2 linked regions of the Homo sapiens genome follow. The protein of the gene in region 1 purifies or fractionates together with the protein of each later gene. This does not show direct contact. Each region holds a gene or a part of one and is shown on either strand. Other genes may lie near its edges. The genes, in order: PGAP3 and VKORC1L1.

Region 1 (10,221 bases):
CTTCAGACTAATGAGCCACCCTCCAGTGCCTAGTTAAGAGTTATACCCCCATCCTGGCCAGCAGGCACAGCACTGTAAGCCCTGATCTCTGGGAAGACCAGATGGGTCAGGGTAGATGACTCAGTATGGCCTGGTGGAAACAGCACAGAGTTGCCATCCAGAAGACACAGGTCCCAACCCCTCCTCTACCACTGACCACGGTCCTTTGAGCCTCAGCTTACTCTGTGAAAAACTGGGGTGAATACTTCCTGCCAACCTCAACAGGCCAGAATGAGATAATACTGGATTGAAACGTACCAGCAGGCCAGGCGCGGTGGCTCACGCCTGTAATCCCAGCACTTTGGGAAGCTGAGGCGAGAGGGTCACAAGGTCAGGAGATTGAGACCATCCTGGCTAACATGGTGAAACCCCATCTCTACTTAAAAAAAAAAAAAAAAAAATACAAAAAATTAGCTGGGTGTGGTGGCACACACCTGTAGTCCCAGCTACTTGGGAGGCTCAGGCATGAGAATTGCTTGAACCTGGGAGGTAGAGGTTGCAGTGAGCCAAGATCATGCCACTGCACTCCAGCCTGGGCGACAGAGGGAGACTCCATCTCAAAAAAAAAAACAAAAAACAAAAAACAAAAGAAAGAAAGGTACCAGCAAACTGTGCCTCGCTAGACAAGCTGAAGCATATTACTGTGAATCCAGACCCCTACTGGAGAAGCAACAGGAAACAAGCCACAGTAGGTAAGGGAATTTGTCCCTGCAGTAAGGTGGGCATCTCAACCACTCTAAGAGGCCCAGCACCACTCTCTGGGGAGACTCCAAAGCCTTCCAGATATTGCTACTCCAAATCCAGAGGCAGGACACATGGGTCCTATCCAATTCTATGGAAACCAGCAGATTTTGGGGAGAACAGGTAGCTGCCCCAAACACACACGCATTACCCCATGCCTCAGACTGCTTGGACAGTGTGGTCCAACCAGGGGGTATATTACTCCTACCACGCTACTACCATATGCCTACCCTGACCCTCCAACTCACCTTGCCATGGAACTGAGGCACTTTGTGACCTTCCTGGAGGTAGAGCCCAACGGTGACCCACATACACTCATACTTACAGTCGTCCCGACAGGTCCAGCCTGAAACAGACAAATGTGGCCTGGTGAACTCCCCAGCACAGAGAGGAAAGAGAGAGCATGAATGGGGTCCAAGCGCAAATGTAGGCCAAGAGGGCCTGTAAGTTGGAGAGAACCAGGAGAAATCTCAAAATTCTAGCTTCCCCTTTGAATGAATGAGAGATGATGAGATGTACACATAGGGGAAGGTGTATGTACGTATGTATGCATATTTTAGTGAGCAATTAGAGATATTCGTCTTTTTTTTGTTTGTTTTTTTGAGACAGTTTTGTTTTTGTTGCCCAGGCTGGAGTGCAATGGTGCGATCTCGGTTCACTGCAACCTCCGCCTCCTGGGTTCAAGCGATTCTCCTGCCTCAGGCTCCCGAGTAGCTGGGATTACAGGCATGCACCACCACACCCAACTAATTTTGTATTTTTAGTAGAGATGGGGTTTCTCCATGTTGGTCAGGGTGGTCTTGAACTCCCAACCTCAGGTTATCTGCCTGCCTCTGCCACCTAAAGTGCGGGGATTGCAGGCACGAGCCACCGCACCCGGCATTTTTTTTTTTTTTTTTTTTTTGAGACAGGGTCTCGCTCTTTCATCCAGGCTGGAGTGCAGTGGGGAGAGCATGGCTCACCACAGCCTTGACCTCCTGGGCTCAAACGATCCTCCCACCTCAGCCTCCCAAGTAGCGAGACCACAATGTCTGGCTAATTCTTTTATTTTTTGTAGAGAAGGCATCTTGTCATGTTGCCTAGGCTAGTCTTGAACTCCAGGGCTCAGATGATCTTTCTACCTTGGCAGACATTTCCTCTCCTTTTGCTCAAGTCCATCAAGATGTTGGCATCTGATGAACTCATCTATGGAAACCTGGGTTTATATTTGTCCTTCCTGAATATAGGATTTGCTCTTACTCTCCTGGAAGGAGTTCTTGCTATCTTACTCCCTTCCTATGAAAATGAAGCCCAAATTCTTCAACCTGACTTTTGAGGCTCCAAATTGCCTTTCCAACCGTATTGGTCACTACTCCTGTTCATGTACCCTGCTCCCTGAGTAAATAAAGCTCCTGGATGTGCCCACATCTGCCCAGGGCATCCATTCTCTCTGTTCCCTCTGTCTGGAATGCAAAGTGGTATAATAGTAAAGAGGACAAGCTTGTGGTCAAACAGGCCAGAACTGGAAACTCCACTTTACTACATACTGGCTGTGTGACCTTGGGCAGGGCATTTAATCTCTCTAATCCCCATCTGTAAAACTGGGATTAGAGAAACTATCTCAAAGGGTGTGATAAAAATTACTTGACATATTGTGACACCTGTCACACAGTGAGTGCTCAATACGTTGGTTCTTTGCCCACTATGGTCCAAATCGAATGTACCAGTCCAAAGTCCCTCCTTCAAACAAAACGTTCCAAGATGATCCCTGCCCCCACGTCTTCAAAGCCGGAACTGACACCTTCCTATCCCAAATGCTTCCTAATCAAAGAGTCTTTCAGGGGCTCAAATCATTCTCTGCCTTGCACTTGAAAAGGCTCATGTCCCCGTGGGGACTGTGAGTCCCAATGGGCGGGACCCTGGTCTGATTTCTGTGCCATTCCTAGACATTGTGGCCCGAATGTATTTAATAAATACCCTTTTGACTGAACAAATAAGTAAATGAAAGCTTCTGGGAAAGTAAGAGAGGCTGGTAAGGCTCTCATCACCTTAGGGGCTTCACTCACATTCATAAGAGACCTCGTGGGGAAACTAAGGTTCAGGGATTGCAGAGGCGTATTGGGGGCGCAGGGGGCGGGAGCAAGACAAATGGGCGGGGCTTACCGTGGGGGTGGGGCTTACCTGCTAGACTCATGTAGATTGGCTGGCGGGAGCGGAAGTGATTCAGAGCGCCCCCAGAGCAGTTCTGCTCTTCGCACTGCAGTACGCAGTCGCGGTACACCGGCTCACGGTCGCCCTGGGAGCCGCTCGCCAGCGCCGCTGCCCCAGCTAGCAGGACCAACCGCGCCGCCAGGCCGGCCATCCTTTCTCCCTGGCTCGCCGCCGGGGGAGGAGCTTAGGAGTATGAAGCTTCCACTTCCGGAGTAACCGGAAGTTCCTGTGTTCTTTATTCTACTCTCCGCTGAAGTCCACACAGTTTAAATTAAAGTTCCCGGATTTTTGTGGGCGCCTGCCCCGCCCCTCGTCCCCCTGCTGTGTCCATATATCGAGGCGATAGGGTTAAGGGAAGGCGGACGCCTGATGGGTTAATGAGCAAACTGAAGTGTTTTCCATGATCTTTTTTGAGGTAGGGCTGTTTACTGTCACCACCCCTGTCGGATTTTACTTCCTAAACGTACCTGTAACTATCCACTTCTCTCCATCTCTTCTGGCACCACCCTGGTTAAAGACACCATCATGTGTCGCCAAGACAGCCGCAGTAGCTTCTTAATGGCTCTCCCTGCCTCTACTTTTGCCTCTTCCAACCTGCGCTCCATTTTGAAAAATTAAAATTTGCCCATATCACTTTTTTTTTCTTAAAATTATTTACTGGCTCCCAATTACCTTGGGTAAAATACAGTCTCCACAAACCCTGCCTGATTTGGCCCCTGTCCACTGGTCTCCCTCACTCCCTTGCTCCAGACCCGCTTCAGAGGGCTATGTCCCTCAAGCTTCCTGACTGCCTGGCCTGGTCTGAATCACTCACTCTTCTTTTTTCTTCTAGTCGCAATTGAAGTACCACCTCCCGAGGGTGATTGCTTCCCCATGCGGGGTAGAACCTTTGCTGTCCTGTTCACCACTCTACCTCCAGCACAGAATTTGGCTTATGGTAGGCGCTAACTGCGTTTGTTTGTTCTTCTGTTTAATGAATGAACAGCATACATCAACATAAGAACTTGACAAATCCAGGGCTGTAAAATCATCAGTATGGTTCTGCACTGAGATCGGAGAGAAGTAATATTTCTAGGAAAATTAGGAACCCTGGGAACAGGACGCTTGCTTTAGTATCCTCTCCCTGCTCACCTCCCCTGCACTCCCATCAGCACCGACCCACACCCAATCTCATAGAAGCCTTGTAGCTAAGGATCACCCTTTCTCCTCCCCCACTCTCCTCACCCCTTGTCAACTTTTCTTTTTCGTCCTGGGGGTTGGAATGAGTAAGAAGTAGCCTGGGATTCCATTCACTCACTTAACAAACATTTCTGAGTCCTTAGCTCTAGCACCTTGCTAAGCAAGGCAAAATCTCCAGGAGGCACCATTCACATTGCATTTTCTGTGAATGGTGCTCTGGGGAGCAGCATTCACATTGCCTTTTCTGTGAATGGCAAATTCTTCCAGTTAAATATAACATGAATAGTGTCCCCTGGAGTTGACCACCCAACTGATACTGACTGAGAAGCTGAAATGAACAAAACAACCCCTTAGCCCTCCAGGAGCTGACCGGAAATCCAGTGCTAATACTACTTTGCATCTTACAGATTAGTTCTTTTACAATACTGTTTTTTTTTCTTTTTTCATTTCATTTTGTCCTTTCTGTGACTCTGGGATGAGTCTTTTTATGAGGATCCTCATATAAAGATGGACATTTAGGATTAAAGAGGATGAAATCCTGACAAAATAGGGAGTCTCCCCTTTAGAAAATTCCTAAGTAAGGCTGGGGGTGGTGGCTCACGCCTGTAATCCCAGCACTTTGGGAGGCCGAGGCGGACGGATCACCTGAGGTTAGGAGTTTGAGACCAGCCTGACCAACATGGAGAAACCCCATCTCTACTAAAAATACAAAATTAGTTGGGTGTGGTGGTGCATGCCTGTAATCCCAGCTACTCAGGAGGCTGAGGCAGGAGAATCGCTTGAACCCAGGGAGGCAGAGGTTGTGGTGAGCCAAGATTGCGCCATCGCACTCCAGCCTGGGCAACAAGAGCGAAACTCAAAAAAAAAAAAAAAAAGAAAAAGAAAATTCCAATTTTGAAGGCCTCATCCTATATTATGTCAAACATACTGAAATGCAGTAACGCCCCACATTAAATAAGATTTATAAATAACTATACATATATATAATTCAATCTAATTGCTGTTAATAGTTGACATATTGCTACATTTATATACATTTAGTTAAAAAAAATTTTTTTTCCCAGACAGCCTCTCACTCTTTCACCTAGACTGAAGTGCAGTGGCATGATCACGACTCACTGCAACCTCAACCTCCCAGACTCAAGTGATCCTTCCATCTCAGCCTCCTGAGTAGCTGGGACTGCAGCATGCGCCACTATGCCCTGCTAATTTTTTTAATTTTTTGTAGAGACACGGTCTTGCTATGTTGCCTAGACTGGTCTCCAATTCCTGGGCTCGAGTGATCCTCCCGCCTCAACCTCCCAAAGTGCTGGGATTACGGGCGTGAGCCATGCCACACGGCCATAAAATATTAATTTTCGCAGCTTTCTTATATTTTAGAACTAACAATGGAAATTTGTTCGGGTCTAAAGTATTTCAGAGGTCCTTGAAAACCCATGCCTACATACCTGATGGAAAAAGCAATCCTAGGTTAATGGTGGAAGTGGGAGTAGAGACTTCTGTTCTGTTGACTTCTTGGAAGATGGGGTACTGTCTCTCTGGGACAGCTCTTGAGAATTTCCCTGCCAGCACAGCCCCAGATAACAATCTCTAGATGGCGATTACCTGGCCTCTCTTCCCAACTTTCTAGCCTGGAGCCCCTAGTTCTCCCCTGAGCCTCCTTAGCTTGTCCTTCTTCCTAACTTGTATTTGGCTTCAGATGTGATCCACAGTCTGAAAAGTCACTAATTCATTCCTTCAACTCAGGCTTATTGAGTCCTCCTGTGTATCAGCCATTGTACTCATGGGGGAAAAAAAAGACAAAGCATATGTTAATAGTAGAGTGTGCTGGACAGGCACAGTGGCTCATGCCTGTAATCCCAGCACTTTGGGAGGGCGAGGCAGGTGGATCATCTGAGGTCAGGAGTTCGAGACCAGCCTGACCTAACATGGAGAAACTCCTGAGATCGTGCCATTGCACTCCAGCCTGGGCAACAAGAGCAAAACTCCGTTTCAAAAAAAAAAAAAAAAGTATAGTGTGCTAAAGGCTCAACGGCAAGCTGACCATGTTCTTAGATCAAAATTGGTAGAGAGTCTACAATGTGGGTTCCTTATTCATCAAATGTTTATTAAGTTTACCATGTGCAAGTCTCTGGGAACAGAGTGATGAACAAGGCACTGTACTTTTCATGGTCAGAGGAGGGAAACAGGCCATAAACAAGTGTCAAACAAAAGACTGAAGCCAGGTGCGGTGGCTCACATCTGTAATCCCAGCACTGTGGGAGGCCAAGGCAGGCGGATCATGAGATCAGGAGATCGAGACCATCCTAGCCAACATGGTGAAACCCCATCTCTACTAAAAATACAAAAAAATTAGCTGGGCATGGTGGCACGTGCCTGTAATCCCAGCTACTCCGGAAGCTGAGGCAGGAGAATTGCTTGAACCAGGGAGTTGGAGGTTGCAGTGAGCCTGGATTATGCCACTGCACTCCAGCCTGGTGACAGAGCGAGACTCCATCTACATTAAAAAAAAAAATATATATATATATATATACACACACACACACACACACACACACATACCCTCTAACCCAGGAATTTCACTCCTAGGTATACCTACATAAGCTCCAGTATACCTAAACAAGTGCAAATTTGTTTAAGTACAGTTATTTGTGGTAGCATTAGTCATTGTTTTCAATAGCAAGAAGAAAAAGGAAACAACTAAATGTCCATCAATAGGGAATGAATTATATTAATGGAGGGAGAGCCATACAATGGAAGGCTGAACAGAAATTAATAGGAATGGGGCAGATTTGTAATGTACTAGCATGGTAAAACCTTCATGATAGATATAGATATAGATATAGATATAGATATAGATATATATACATATACATATACATATACATATACATATATATATATATATATATATATCTCTTGTGTCTCAGCCTCCCGAGTAGCTGGGATTACAGGTGTGTGCCACCACATCCGGCTAATTTTTGTATTTTTTAGTAGAGACAGGGCTTCACCATGTTGGTAAGGCTGTCTTGAACTCCCGACCTCAGGTGATCCACCTGTCTCAGCCTCCCAAAGTGCTGGGATTATAGGCATGAGCCATCACACCTGGCCAAATATTTTTGATAAGTATCAAGTGCACAGTGCAGAACAAAATATGTGTGTGTGTATGCATGTGTATGTACACCTATACACTTATATACAGTACCCCATGTGAAGAAAAATAAGGGTACGTGTTATGCGCGTAGTATTATGGTTGTTATTTTTGAGAATATATCTAGAAAGATAAAAAAGAAAGTGGAAATAGTTCTTGCCTCTGGTGGGAAGTGGGACTATGTGCCTGATCAATAGGGAAGTAAGGAACACTTTTTTTTTTTTTTTTTAAACGGAGTTTTTGCTCTTGTTACCCAGGTTGGAGTGCAATGGCGCGATCTTAGCTCACTGCAACCTCTGCCTCCCAGGTTCAAGCGATTCTGCTGCCTCAGCCTCCTGAGTAGCTGGGATTATAGGCATGCGCCTCCACGCCTGGCTAATTTTGTATTTTTAGTAAAGATGGGGTTTCTCCATGTTGGTCAGGCTGGTCTTGAACTCCCCACCTCAGGTGATCCGTCCGCCTCAGCCTCCCAAAGTGCTAGGATTACAGGCGTGAGCCACCGTGCCTGGCCAGGAACGCTTTTTATTTTTGTACCTTTAAAAGTGTGTACCGTCTGTGTATATAATCAGTTAAAAACAAAGAAAAGCTGAGTGTGGTGGCTCATGCCTGTAATCCCAGCCCTTAAGGAGGCCGAGGCCGGCGGCAGATCACCTGAGGTCAGGAGTTCAAGACCGGCCTGACCAAAACGGTGAAAACTCATCTCTACAAAAACATAAAAATTAGCCAGGCATGATGGCAAGTGCCTGTAATCCCAGCTGGTTGGGAGGCTGAGGTGGGAGACTTGCTTGAACCTAGGAGGCAGAGATTGCAGTGAGCCAAGACTGTACCACTGCACTCCAGCCTGGGCAACAGAGCAAGTCTCTGTCTCAAAACAAAAACAAAAACACAAAGAAAAAATGTAAAACAATTTCATGCAGTAGCAAGCATCGAGTTAAATACAGTTGACCCTTGAACAACACAGGTTTGAATTGCACGGGTCCATTTATACTCACATTTCTTCCACCTCTGCCACCCCCAAAATAGCAAGACCAACCCCATCTCTTTTCCTTTCTCTTCCCCCTCCTCAGCCTACTCAATGTGAAGATGATGAGGATGAAAACCTTTGTGATGATCCACTTCCACTTAATGAATGGTAAATATGTTTTTTCTTACTTATGATTTTCTTAGTAGCATTTTCTTTTCTCTAGCTTCCTTTATTGTAAAAATACAGTATATAACACATATCACATACAAAATGTGTGTAAATGGACTGTTTGCTATTGATAAGTATTCTGGTAAACAGTAGACTATTAGTTTTTTTTGTTTTGTGACAAGGTCTCCCTCTGTCGCCCAGCCTGGAATGCCGTGGTGTGATCATGGCTCACTGCAGCCAAAAACTTCTGGGCTAAAGCAATCCTCTACTAAAAATACAAAAATTAGCCAGGCATGGTGGTGCGCTTCTGTAATCCCAGCTACTCAGGAGGCTGAGGCAGGAGAATTGCTTGAACCCGGGAGGCAGAGGTTGCAGTGAGCTGAGATTGCACCGTTGCATTCCAGCCTGGACAACAGAGCGAGACTCCATCTCGAAAATAAAATAATAATAATAATAATAATAATAATAATAATAATAATAGGGCTGGGTGTGGTGGCTCATGCCTGTAATCCCAGCACTTTGGGAGGCCAAGGTGGACAGATCACCTGAGGTCAGGAGTCTCAATTAAAAAATAAATAGGCCGGGCACAGTGGCTCATGCCCATAATCCCAGCACTTTGGGAGGCCGAGGTGGGCAGATCACCTGAGGTCAGGAGTTTGAGACCAGCCTGGCCAACACGGAGAAACGCTGCCTCTATCAAAAATACAAAAATTAGCTGGATGTGGTGGTGCATGCTATAATCCCAGTAATACCAGCTACTCGGAAGGCTGAGGCAGGAGAATCACTCGAATCCGGGACACGGAGGTTGCAGTGAGCCGACATCATGCCACTGCGCTCCAGCCTGGGTGACAGTGAGACTCTGTCTCAGAAAAAAAAAAAAAAAAAAAAAAAAAAAAAAAAAATATATATATATATATATATATATATATATATATATATATATGTGTGTATATATATATATATACACATATATATGTGTATATATATATACACACACACATATATATGTGTATATATAAAATAAAATAAATAATAATAAAACATTTACTTTGGCTGCTGTTGCTGCGGGGAGAATTGCAGGGTGTCAAAAGTAGCACTGGTGGAGGGGTAGTGATCAAAGTCTGGTGCTTTAGCCCAAAGGAGAAATGATAGAGACTCAGACTAGCTGGTGATGGAGGTAGAATAAGCATAAATGTATCAAAAAGAGGAGTTGATAGATCTTAAAGAATGATTGGATTTGAAGGGCAAAGGAAGAGAAGAATCAACCAGGTGGGTTCAGTGAATGAAACCATCAGAAACGAATTGTCCCCTGAAATCAAGACTTTGTGATTGCCATAGTTGTATGCTTCTCAAAGGTTCCTCGTCTCCTCTTCCTTGGACCAAAAGTCAGAGGCAAGAATGCCCTCATTCATACCCCAGTGGTCTATACCTCCAGCAGCAAGTCGAGTGAGCAAGTGATGTCCTGAAAGGCCCAGTGGATCAGTGGAATGAAGCGGGCAGGAAGACTTAGTGCTCCTGAAACAAGGAATCCAGAATCCAGGAGAAGGATGGCTCAGTGGGGCTTTCAAGGGACAAGTATGGGGGTTGAAGGGGTCACTGTCCCTATACCAAATCCGAAAATATTGTGACCAGGAACCATTCTGTCCAACTCTTCTATTTCAGGTGGCAAAGCAAAGCTATATTCAAGACCACATGCAAAGCTACTCCCTGAGCAAAGAGTCACAGATAAAACGGGGGCACCAGTAGAATGGCCAGGACAAACGCAGTGCAGCACAGAGACTCAGACCCT
Region 2 (10,310 bases), on another chromosome or scaffold:
GGGTGTGGGACCTTGTCCACCGCACCCTTGAGACCAGCGGCAACCTCTTGTCCCCCCGATCGCTGCAGCCGAGGCTTTGGGGCCGGCGCGGAGACAGGGGGGTTGCCTTTCCCACTGTCTTCCTGGTGCTAGGACAGGTGTTTCCGTGGTCAGGCCTCTTTGTACTCCAGCGCTAGTGAGAATTTGCAGACTTAACTGGGACGGTGACATTTGCTGGCAAACACGAATTTGACCCTACTGTGGAAGAAGATACCCGCACTTAACATATCTGATTTCTTGGATTCCCTCTCGTATGTTTCAGTGTGCCAGGAGAAGGAAATGGTCTGAGTTTGGGTCTAGTTTAAGCTTCATTGGAGTAAAGGACAAGTATGTTATGTATATGGTGGTGTTTTAGGCATTGGAATGACTTTTAAACGTTGTTGCCTATTAGCATATTCGAGACCAGCATATTGGTCAGGCTGGTCTCGAACTCCTGACCTCAGGTAATCCACCCACCTCTGCCTTCCAAAGTGCTGGGAATCAAGCATGAGCCACCGCGCCTGGCCTGCTTAAGTGCTTAAAATTGACTTTTCTTGGCCGGGCACAGTGGCTCACGCCTGTAATCCCAGCACTTTGGGAGGCCGAGGCGGGTGGATCATGAGGTCAGGAGTTCAAGACCAGCCTGGCCAACATGGTGAAACCCCGTCTCTACCAAAAATACAAAAATTAGCTGGGTGTGGTGGCATGTGCCTATAGTCCCAGCTACTCGGGAGGCTGAGGCAGGAGAATTGCTTGAACCTGGGAGGCAGAGGTTGCAGTGAGCCAAGACCACACCATTGCACCCCAGCCTGGGCAACAGAATGAGACTCCATCTCAAATAAATAAATAAAATATAAATAAATAATTTTTAAAAATTGACTTGTCTTTAAAAAAGTGTATTTAGCATACACTCTAAATATTCTCATAGTTATATCCTGCAAGAGCTGCATGTTTGTGCATAAAACATCAAGTAGTATATTAAAAGTATGTATAAGTACATGTAAGACTAAAGGTAACTGGATCTCTTTATAGTTTTAAATGTGAATTTAATATGTTGTGACTGAAAGTGATGTTTCATTGTGTAGCTGTGGACATAAAATAGTTTAACTTAGATGCTTGCCAAAGGAGGGTAGGTAAAAATAAGATTTGCTAATAAGAAGAGTAGATAACTTATTTGCCATGTATACAGTGAAATTAAGAAATTTGTTCAATTTGATCAGCCTGTTTATAAACTACTTGCAAAAATCAAGTAGCTTATAAACTACCCATTTAATAAATGAATTTACAAATCAACTTGTTTTGCAGGTAGTTTATATGCAGGCTGATCAAAATCACATATGTATATATACATATATAATCACATATATGTACATATATAGACTCATTTTCTTTTGGAAGTGTGTAGACAAAACATCATTGAAAGTTTTTATTTTGTCAAGCTGAAAGACACTTTTCTTTTTTTTTCTGAGACGGAGTCTTGCTCTGTCACACAGGCTGGAGTGCAGTGGTGCGATCTCGACTCACTGCAACCTCCACCTCCCGGGTTCACTCCATTCTCCTGCCTCAGCCTCCTGAGTAGCTGGGACTACAGGCGCCCGCCACAACGCCCTGCTAATTTTTTGTATTTTTGGTAGAGACGGGGTTTCACCATGTTAGCCAGGATGGTCTCGATCTCCTGACCTCGTGATCCGCCCTCCTCGGCCTCCCAAAGTGCTGGGATTACAGACGTGAGCCACCGCGCCTAGCCTGAAACAGACTTTAAATGAAAGCTGATTATTGGACACCTCAAGTTAGTTTTTTTTGAGTGGTGATTGCCATGTAGCAGTAGTACTCAAATATGTGACTCTTTTAGGAAAAGAAAGTTTGAGCCCAGAGGAAAGTTAACAGACAAAGATTCTGAAGAAAATCATCTTCCAGGATCCAGAGTCAGCACGTGGTTTTGGATTGCTCAAACTCACTTTATTCTCATTTCGCAAGCCCTGTGTCTTAATCCAAACACGGTAAGGTAGAGATTAATGAGAGAATCTTGAGAGGCAGGTGTTATCTGTGTGTAAAGTCCTCTATTATTTTGGGGAGGCATAATGATGGAAAGTTCCAGATTTTATATTTCTAAAGAAATATTTCACCGAAATTAGTAGGCTACAATAGAAATGCTGATTTTTCAATTCTACCATGTACAGCCAGTAAAAACAATAACACACCACTATCTCCTGTCACCATCATTTCATTTAACAAAAGGATATTTCCATTCAAACAATTTGAAAGAACAGAATCTCTCAGAATAAAATATTTTTAAATGGAATCATTTAGCTATATGGAAAAGTTTACTTTCAGACCAGCCTGGCCAACATGCTGAAACCCCGTCTCTACTAAAAATACAAAACAAGCTGGGCGTGGTAGCATGCACCTGTAATCCCAGCTACTCGGGAGGCTGAGGCAGGAGAATCACTTGAACCTGGGATGCAGAGGTTGCAGTAAGCCAAGATCGCGCCATTGCACTCCAGCCTGTGTGACAGAACGAGACTCTGTCTTTAAAAAAAAAAAAAAAAAGTTTACTTTCGTGTCCTTACTTTTTCCCATTTTCCCATAAATCGGTGAAAACTCTGCTGCAAACCTGCACCAGCCTGCCAGCTAACATTCAGTTAGCAGTCCCTGCCCCCTTGGTTTGGTACACTGAGCTCAAATCTAAGGGATCTGGGTGGGCTTCCACCTCTCCCAGTTCTTAGGCTTGTGGCCTTATCTTCATGGTGCCTCAGTTTCTTATGTTAAATAGGGCTTTTAACACCTACTTAGGGCCTGGTGCAGTGGCTCACACCTGTAATCCCAGCAGTTTGGGACGCTGACACCTGGCAGACCTCTTGAGCTCAGGAGTTTCAGACCAGCCTGGGCAACAGGGCAAAACCGTGTCTTTACAAAAAATACAAACGTTAACCGGGCATGGTGGCGCATGCCTGTATTTCCAGCTTCTTGGGAGGCTGAGGTGTGAGGATCACTTGAGCCTGAGAGGCTGAGGTCTGCAGTGAGCCATGATGGTGCCACTGCACTCCAGCCTGGGTGGTAGAGAGAGACCCTGTCTCAAAAAAAGAAAAACAAAAAAACCTACTTTGCCAGATTAGTGTTACGATGAAAAGTGATACATGTATGTTCCTGAAATAAAGCCTGTCCTCAGTTATAGCTGTTACCATTGATTGGAGATGTTCTTTTTTTTCCAGTGTTTGATAATAAATGCCTTTAAGTATAAGTTTCTTGTACATACTTGTTTATATGTTTAAACATTAATTGTTTTAATGTAGTTTATTGCTGACTTTATAGCATAGTATAAAGATGTGTTCATTTAAAACAATTTTGAAGTTGTGCAAGAGAAACTAATGCAGAATATTCTTTTTTTTTTTTTTGATGGAGTCTCGCTGCTCTGTCACCCGGACTGGAGTGCAGTGGCATGATCTCAGCTCACTGCAACCTCCACCTCCCGGGTTCAAGCGATTCTCCTACCTCAGCCTCCCAAGGAGCTGGGATTACAGGTGCCCACCACCATGCCCGGCTAATTTTTGTATTTTTAGTAGAGACAGGGTCTTGCCATGTTGGCCAGGCTGGTCTTAAACTCCTGACCTCAGGTGATCTGCCTGCCTCAGCCTCCGAAAGTGCTGAGATTATAGGCATCAGCCACCGTGTCCAGCTGTAATATGCAGAATATTCTATGTAGGTATTTTCTATATATAAGACCCCCTCTAAGAAGGGTTTCTATGTAAGAATAGTACAAATGATCTGGAAAGGTTAATAGGCTTGACAAATCTATGTTTCTTAAAACTGTAAAAATAGTCTGGTTGTCCTATGGTCTATGTATAGAACATATACCATAGGGGATTGGTTTCAGGACCCCTGTTTTTACTGAGATCCTGGCATACTCAAGTCCCCACTGTGGGCCCTGCAGAACCTGAATGTGAAAATTTGGGCCTCCATATATGCAGGTTTCGGTCTGCATTTGGTTGAAAAAGATCCACGTATAAGTGAGCACACACAGCTTAAACCCGTGTTGTTCAAGGGTCCACTGCATTTGAAAATCAAGTCCATAAAAAAGTTGCCTTATTTTACAAAATGTCGGATTACTACCTCTCCCATATCTTAAAAAAAAAGTACCATCTATTTACTACCCCATTGAGATAATAAAACTTTTAGAATTAGAATAGAACCTAGGGCTGGGCATAGTGGTTCACGCCTGTAATCCCAGCACTTTGGGAGGCTGAGGTGGGTGGATCACCTGAGTTCAGGAGTTTGAGACCAGCCTGGCCAATATGGTGAAACCCCTTGTCTACTAAAAATACAAAAAATTAGCCGGGCATGGTGGTGGGCACCTGTAATTCCAGCTACTCGGGAGGCTGAGGCAGGAGAATCACTTGAACCCGGGAGGTGGAGGTAGCAGTAAGCCGAGATTGTGCCACTGCCCTCCTGCCTGGGCAATAAGAGGGAAACTCTGTCTTACAAAAAAAAAAAAGAACCTAGAAGTATTTACTGCTCTTTGCTTTGTCTGAGACTCAGAGGTTAAGTGACTTGCCCAAGATAGCACAGGTAGTAGCAAATTGAGACTTGACACCTGGCTTCCAGAGTACTTATTTAAAGTCCCCTTTGCACCCCCATTTTAAAAATTAAATTCTTGGCTGGACGCAGTGGCTCACGCCTGTAATCTCAGCACTTTGGGAGGCCGAGGTGGGCGGATCACGAGGTCGGGAGATCAAGACCATCCTGGCTAACATGGTGAAACCCCGTCTCTACTAAAAATACAAAAAAAATTAGCCAGACATGGTGGCACACGCCTGTAGTCCCAGCTACTTGAGAGGGGCTGAGGCAGGAGAATCACTTGAACCCGGGAGGTGGAGGTTGTGGTGAGCTGAGGTCGTGCCACTGCACTCCAGACTGGGTGACAGAGTGAGACTCTGTCTCAAAAAAAAAGAAAAATTAAATTCTTGTCTAGGTAAGGCATTCGCTGCTTCGGATTTGAAAGATAACAAAGCATGTACAGTGAAAAGTCTCCTTCATATCCCTTCCACCAGACAGTTCTCCCGCTCAGTAGACCGCTGTGAAACTTTTCAGAGCCGTTTGACACATAGACAAACATCCACGTGACCATATGATTCCTCCCTTTTTTTAACATGGAAGTATCACGTATGCATCCTTATTGATAGCCTGCTTTTTGCTTGGCATTCGTTCCATTGCTCCCATACTTTAAATGCTTATGTTCATATTTAGTGAAATGTTAATAACTGCTAGTACGTAAAAGAGAATTTGTTCTAGTAGTTTTGACTAACCAAGATAAATTTCAGAAATAAAATTCTTAACATTATCATTGTTTCTTGGTATGGAAATTTCAGAAGCAGGTTGAACTGAAAAGAGTCCAAGAGGAATAGAGAAATATCACAAGGAAGTGAATCTGGACTGTAGTAGAGATAAATGTTAATACTTACAGATAATGCTTACTATGTGCTAGGCAGTGTTCTAAATGTTTTGCATACATTATTGAAGTCTCTCAAGAGTCCCATGAGGCAGGTAGCTTTTATCACCATTTTACACATGAGAAAACTGAGCAACGCAGACTAACACTTGATCCAGGTAGTACAGTGGCAGAGGCCTGATTCTAACCCAGGCAGTCTGGCTCAAGAGTCCAAGCTCTTTACCACTACTCTTTCGTCTTCCTTTCTTCCTTTCCCTCCCACCCTCCTTCTTCCTTTCCTTTCTTTTCTCTCTTTCTTTTCCTTCCTTCTTTTCTTTCTTTTTCCTTCCTTCCTTCCTTTTCTTTATTTTTCCTTCTTCCTTCCTCCTTCGTTCCTTGCTTCCTTCTTTCCTTTTCTTTTTCTTTCCTTTCCTTTTTTTTTCTTTCCTTTCTTTTCTTTCTTCTTTAACTTTTTGAGACATTGTCTCACTCTGTCTCCCCAGGCTGAGTGCAGTGGTGCAGTCATGGCTCACTGCAGCCTCAACCTCCCTGGGTCAAGTGATCCTCCAACCTCAGCTTCCTGAGTAGCTGGGTCTACAGTTGCACACCCCACCATGCCTAGCTAATTTTTTCTATTTTTCATAGTGACGAGGTCTCACTTTGTTGCCTGAGTTGGTCTCAAACTCCTGGCCTCAAGCAGTCTTCCCACTTGGCCTCCCAAAGTGCTGAGATTACAGGTGTGAGCCACCACGCCCAGCCTTTTACCACTACTTTAAATTCCATTTAGATCTAATATTGATAGAGTGATAACCATATCAACCAGATTTTTTAAATATGCAAACAATGGTGCCAGTTTCTGTATCTATGTGACAAAAATATATAGAGTTTGTGGTATCACTTTTACCTGTTTAGAGCACTCTTTGGAAAGGCAGGGAAATTACTGTGAAGGTATTGGTATTCCAGAAGTAAGTTCCTGGAGTGTTTGCCTTCTAAGGTGTGAGGACGTGGTTTGTCACACCCAGTTAACTAACAGATAGACGGTGTAGTGAGCTGTCCGGAAGACTTAGCAGGTTAGCCTAGGGAGGAAGGAGAAAGGGGTTCTGGGCACATGGAGGGAGGGGGAGGGAAAAGAGTTTGTTTGAATCTGTCCTAGATTGGGGTAGCTTTTTCGGAGGGAGGCCTTGTCGTGTGGACCTGCTGCATATAAAGACAGGAGAATTGGACCTGAGGTGTGGTGCTAGCTAAAGCGCCACACAGATCTGGGAATTTAAGAGGAGTTCATTTCCTCAATCATTAGGAAGAACTTGAAAGGGTAGCAAACTGTGGTCATTTGAGAAGAACAGCAAGTGGTCATATTTGAATGTAACATATTCAACTGGGTTGGGAAAGAACCAGAATCTAGATCTTGCCCATAGCAAGTGCAAAACCAGGCGTTCTTATAAACCATGTACTCTTGTAAACACTGATAAGACATAGCACTGAGTCCTGAGCTTTTCTTCTATAAAGTTATTGTACAGGTTGAGGATCCCTAATCCGAAAATCCAAAATCTGAAATGCCCCTGTGAGCATTTCCGTTGAGTGTCATTGGCACTCAAAGTTTTGGATTTTGGACCATTTCAGATTTTGAACTTTCAGATTTGGGATGCTCAACCGGTATATAATGCACATATTCCCAAATCTGAAAAAATCCCAAATCCAAAGCATTTCAGCTCCAAAGTGTTTCAGATAAGGAATATTCAACCTGTACTACATTGTACTAGGCTTGTATTAGATTCCCAGTTTTCAAAATTTGTATCTCAGAATCCCTGTTCTCTGTCAATGAAACAGGGATTTCATACACCTTTGATTCACATTTTAATGTTTTAAGTTTAAAATATTATAAATGTTTATACACAGTCAAATGAATCTCATGCTAAATTTTAATATATTAGAGACAACTGATTTGTCTGCCAGGTTATCTCAAGAGAGTTAATACTGAGTGAAAACAAGTGAGAACCCTAAAAGATTACATACTGTATGATTGCATTTATGTAACATTATTGAAATAACAAACCTGCAGAGATGGAGAACAGATTTAGTGGTTGCTAGGAGTTAGGAATGGGAGGTGAGGGGTGGTGTGGTTATAAAGTGGTAGCATGAGGGAGCTGTGTAGGGATGGAACAGTTCAATGTCTCAGGTGTGATTATACAAAGCTGCAAATGTGATAAAAACTTCATACAACCACACACACACATACTGCATATAAATCCTAGCGTACTCAAGTCCCATTTTGCATACAAAACTGGTGAAACCTGAATAAACTCAGGATTGGAGGAATTTGGGCGAGGGTACTTGGGACCTCCCTGTGTACTTTTTTGTAAATTCCTGTGATTTATAATTATAGTAATTTTAAAATAAAAAGTTGGCCAGGCACAGTGGCTCATGCCTGTAATCCCAGCACTTTGGGAGGCTGAGGCGGATGTATCACGTGAGGTCAGGAGTTCAAGACCAGCTTGGCCAACATGGTGAAACCCCATCTCTACTAAAAATACAAAAATTAGCCGGGCATGGTAGTGGGTGCCTGTAGTCTGAGCTACCTGGGAGGCTGAGGCAGGAGAATCACTTGAACCTGGGAGGCAGAGGTTGCAGTGAGCTGAGATCATGCCACTGCACTCCAGCCTGAGCGACAGAGCAAACTCTGTCTCAAGAAAATAAAATAAAATAGACTGGGTGTAGTGGCTCACGCCTGTAACCCCAGCACTTTGGGAGACTGAGGCGGGTGGATCACCTGAGGTCGGGAGTTGGAGACCAGCCTGACCAACATGGTGAAACCCCATCTCTACTAAAAATACAAAATTAGTCGGGCATGGTGGTGCATGCCTGTAATCTCAGCTACTCGGGAGGCTGAGACAGGAGAGTTGCTTGAACCCAGGAGGCAGAGGTTGCAGTGAGCCAAGATCACGCCATTGCACTCCAGCCTGGGCAACAAGAGTGAAACTCCGTCTGAAAAATAAAATAAAATAAAATAAAAAGTAAAAAAGCAAAAAAAAAAAAAAAGTGCATTTAGAATATTTGAGAGAAAATAAGCAAAAGGAAGAAAATGTAAATTATCTATAATGCTTACACCCAGGACAATAATCCTTGGAATAGAGTGTCTCACTTTGTGTATAGAAATGAAACTTTTAAAATGCCATTTTATTTTTTAATTAAAATTTTTTCTTTCCTTTTTTTTCCTCCTCAGAGTTAGAAAGGATAAAAATGTTATTGATTAGTAAGACTGTAGCTTTATGTTGATATTTTGAAATTTTAGGCTAGTGCTTGTTTGTTCATGTAACATATAAGCACATTCAGTACTATTAGAACTGTTGCATTATGCAATAACATGACTGCCTAATGCATATATCAGGATTAGTACATATTGTAAAGTTTTTATTTTTTACCAAAATGTTTACGACTACCAAGTATTCATTCCTTAACACTATTACATAATTAATTTAGAAATGTTTTACTTTTAAAACTTCTGGACAGGTGTAATTAAATCCTTAGATAGCGTTAATGTACTATTTAAAAAACACACACAAAACATTATCATTGGCAAAACATGCTTTATCATCTATTCATCTTTGTGAATCCGGTTTTTCTTGATACCATGCCATCAAAACAAAACAAATTTGACATAAGACTGCCCAATCATCCATAATTTAAAGTTGGTGTTCGTCAGAAGAATTTTATTGTTCTCATTATACATGTTATACATTTGAGCTTTTTTTTTTTTTTTTTTTTTTGGAGATGGAGTCTCACTCTGTCACCCAGGCTGGAATGCAGTGGTGCCATCTCGGCTCACTGCAACCTCCACCTCCCAGCTTCAAGCGATTTTCCTGCTTCAGCCTCCTGAGTAGCTGGAACTACAGGCATGTGCCACCATGCCTGGCTGATTTTTTGTGTGTGTATATTTTTAGTAGAGACGGGGTTTCACCATGTTGGTCAGGCTCGTCTCGAACTCCTGACCTCAAATGATCCACCCCCACTTGGCCTCCCAAAGTGCTGCAATTACAGGCATGAGCCACCACACCCGGCCACATTTGAGCTTTAAAATACATTGATAGAATAAAATACTGCTTTAATCTTTTTTTGTTTGTTTTTTGAGACGGAGTTTCACTCTTTCACCCAGGCTGGAGTGCAGTGGCGGGTTCTCGGCTCACTGCAACCTCTGCCTTCCAGTTTCAAGTGATTCTCCTGCCTCAGGCTCCCGAGTAGCTGGGATTACAGGCACCTGCCACCAAACCCGGCTAATTTTTGTATTTTTAATAGAGATGGGGTTTCACCATGTTGGCCAGGCTGGTCTCGACCTCCTGACCTCGTAATCTGCCCGCCTCGGCCTCCCAAAGTGCTGGGATTACAGGTGCAAGCCACCACACCCAGCCTAATCTGTTTATGTTATAGATGCACATAAAATTTCATTTAGAAAAATGTTCTTGTAGTGCAATATTTAAAGCTATTGAATTACGATTCATAAGTTTTATTTTGTAGTTAGCATCTCTAACTAGGGGAATTTCAGGGACACTGTTGGCTGTCTTGTGATTACCGATCCTTTTAAAAACTCATCGTATTTGAGAAGTAAAGTAGTAGAAAATCTATGACAAAATCAGGAATTAAAGTAGACAGTATACTCAACTCCACTGTGTTTAAAGTGTTTGATTAATTTCTATACATTGTGCCAGTGGTTAAGATCTGGGACTCTAGAGTCAACCTGAGTTGAAATCTTGGCTCTGTCACTTGATCTCTTGTCTCAGCTTCTTCCTCCATAAAATGAGGGTAGTAATAGTGTTAACTCATAGGATTATTGTGACTATGAAGTGTACCAGTACATGTAAATAGTCCTGGTGTC

What was found.
Region 2: the proteins of PGAP3 (region 1) and VKORC1L1 purify together in Homo sapiens (affinity purification with mass spectrometry; 2 studies listed by BioGRID and IntAct, with this or other methods). This does not show direct contact.

The regions. Positions count from the first base shown.
Region 1 is NC_000017.11:39,684,894-39,695,114, forward strand, and holds the start of PGAP3 (GPI-specific phospholipase A2-like PGAP3 isoform 1 precursor), read right to left. Parts: upstream 3,165-10,221; 5' UTR 3,122-3,164; coding exon 2,941-3,121; intron 1,127-2,940; coding exon 1,029-1,126; intron 1-1,028. UniProt on the Homo sapiens protein: Involved in the fatty acid remodeling steps of GPI-anchor maturation where the unsaturated acyl chain at sn-2 of inositol phosphate is replaced by a saturated stearoyl chain.
Region 2 is NC_000007.14:65,873,952-65,884,261, forward strand, and holds part of VKORC1L1 (vitamin K epoxide reductase complex subunit 1-like protein 1), read left to right. Parts: intron 1-1,870; coding exon of another isoform or gene 1,871-2,018; intron 2,019-10,310. UniProt on the Homo sapiens protein: Involved in vitamin K metabolism. Can reduce inactive vitamin K 2,3-epoxide to active vitamin K, and may contribute to vitamin K-mediated protection against oxidative stress.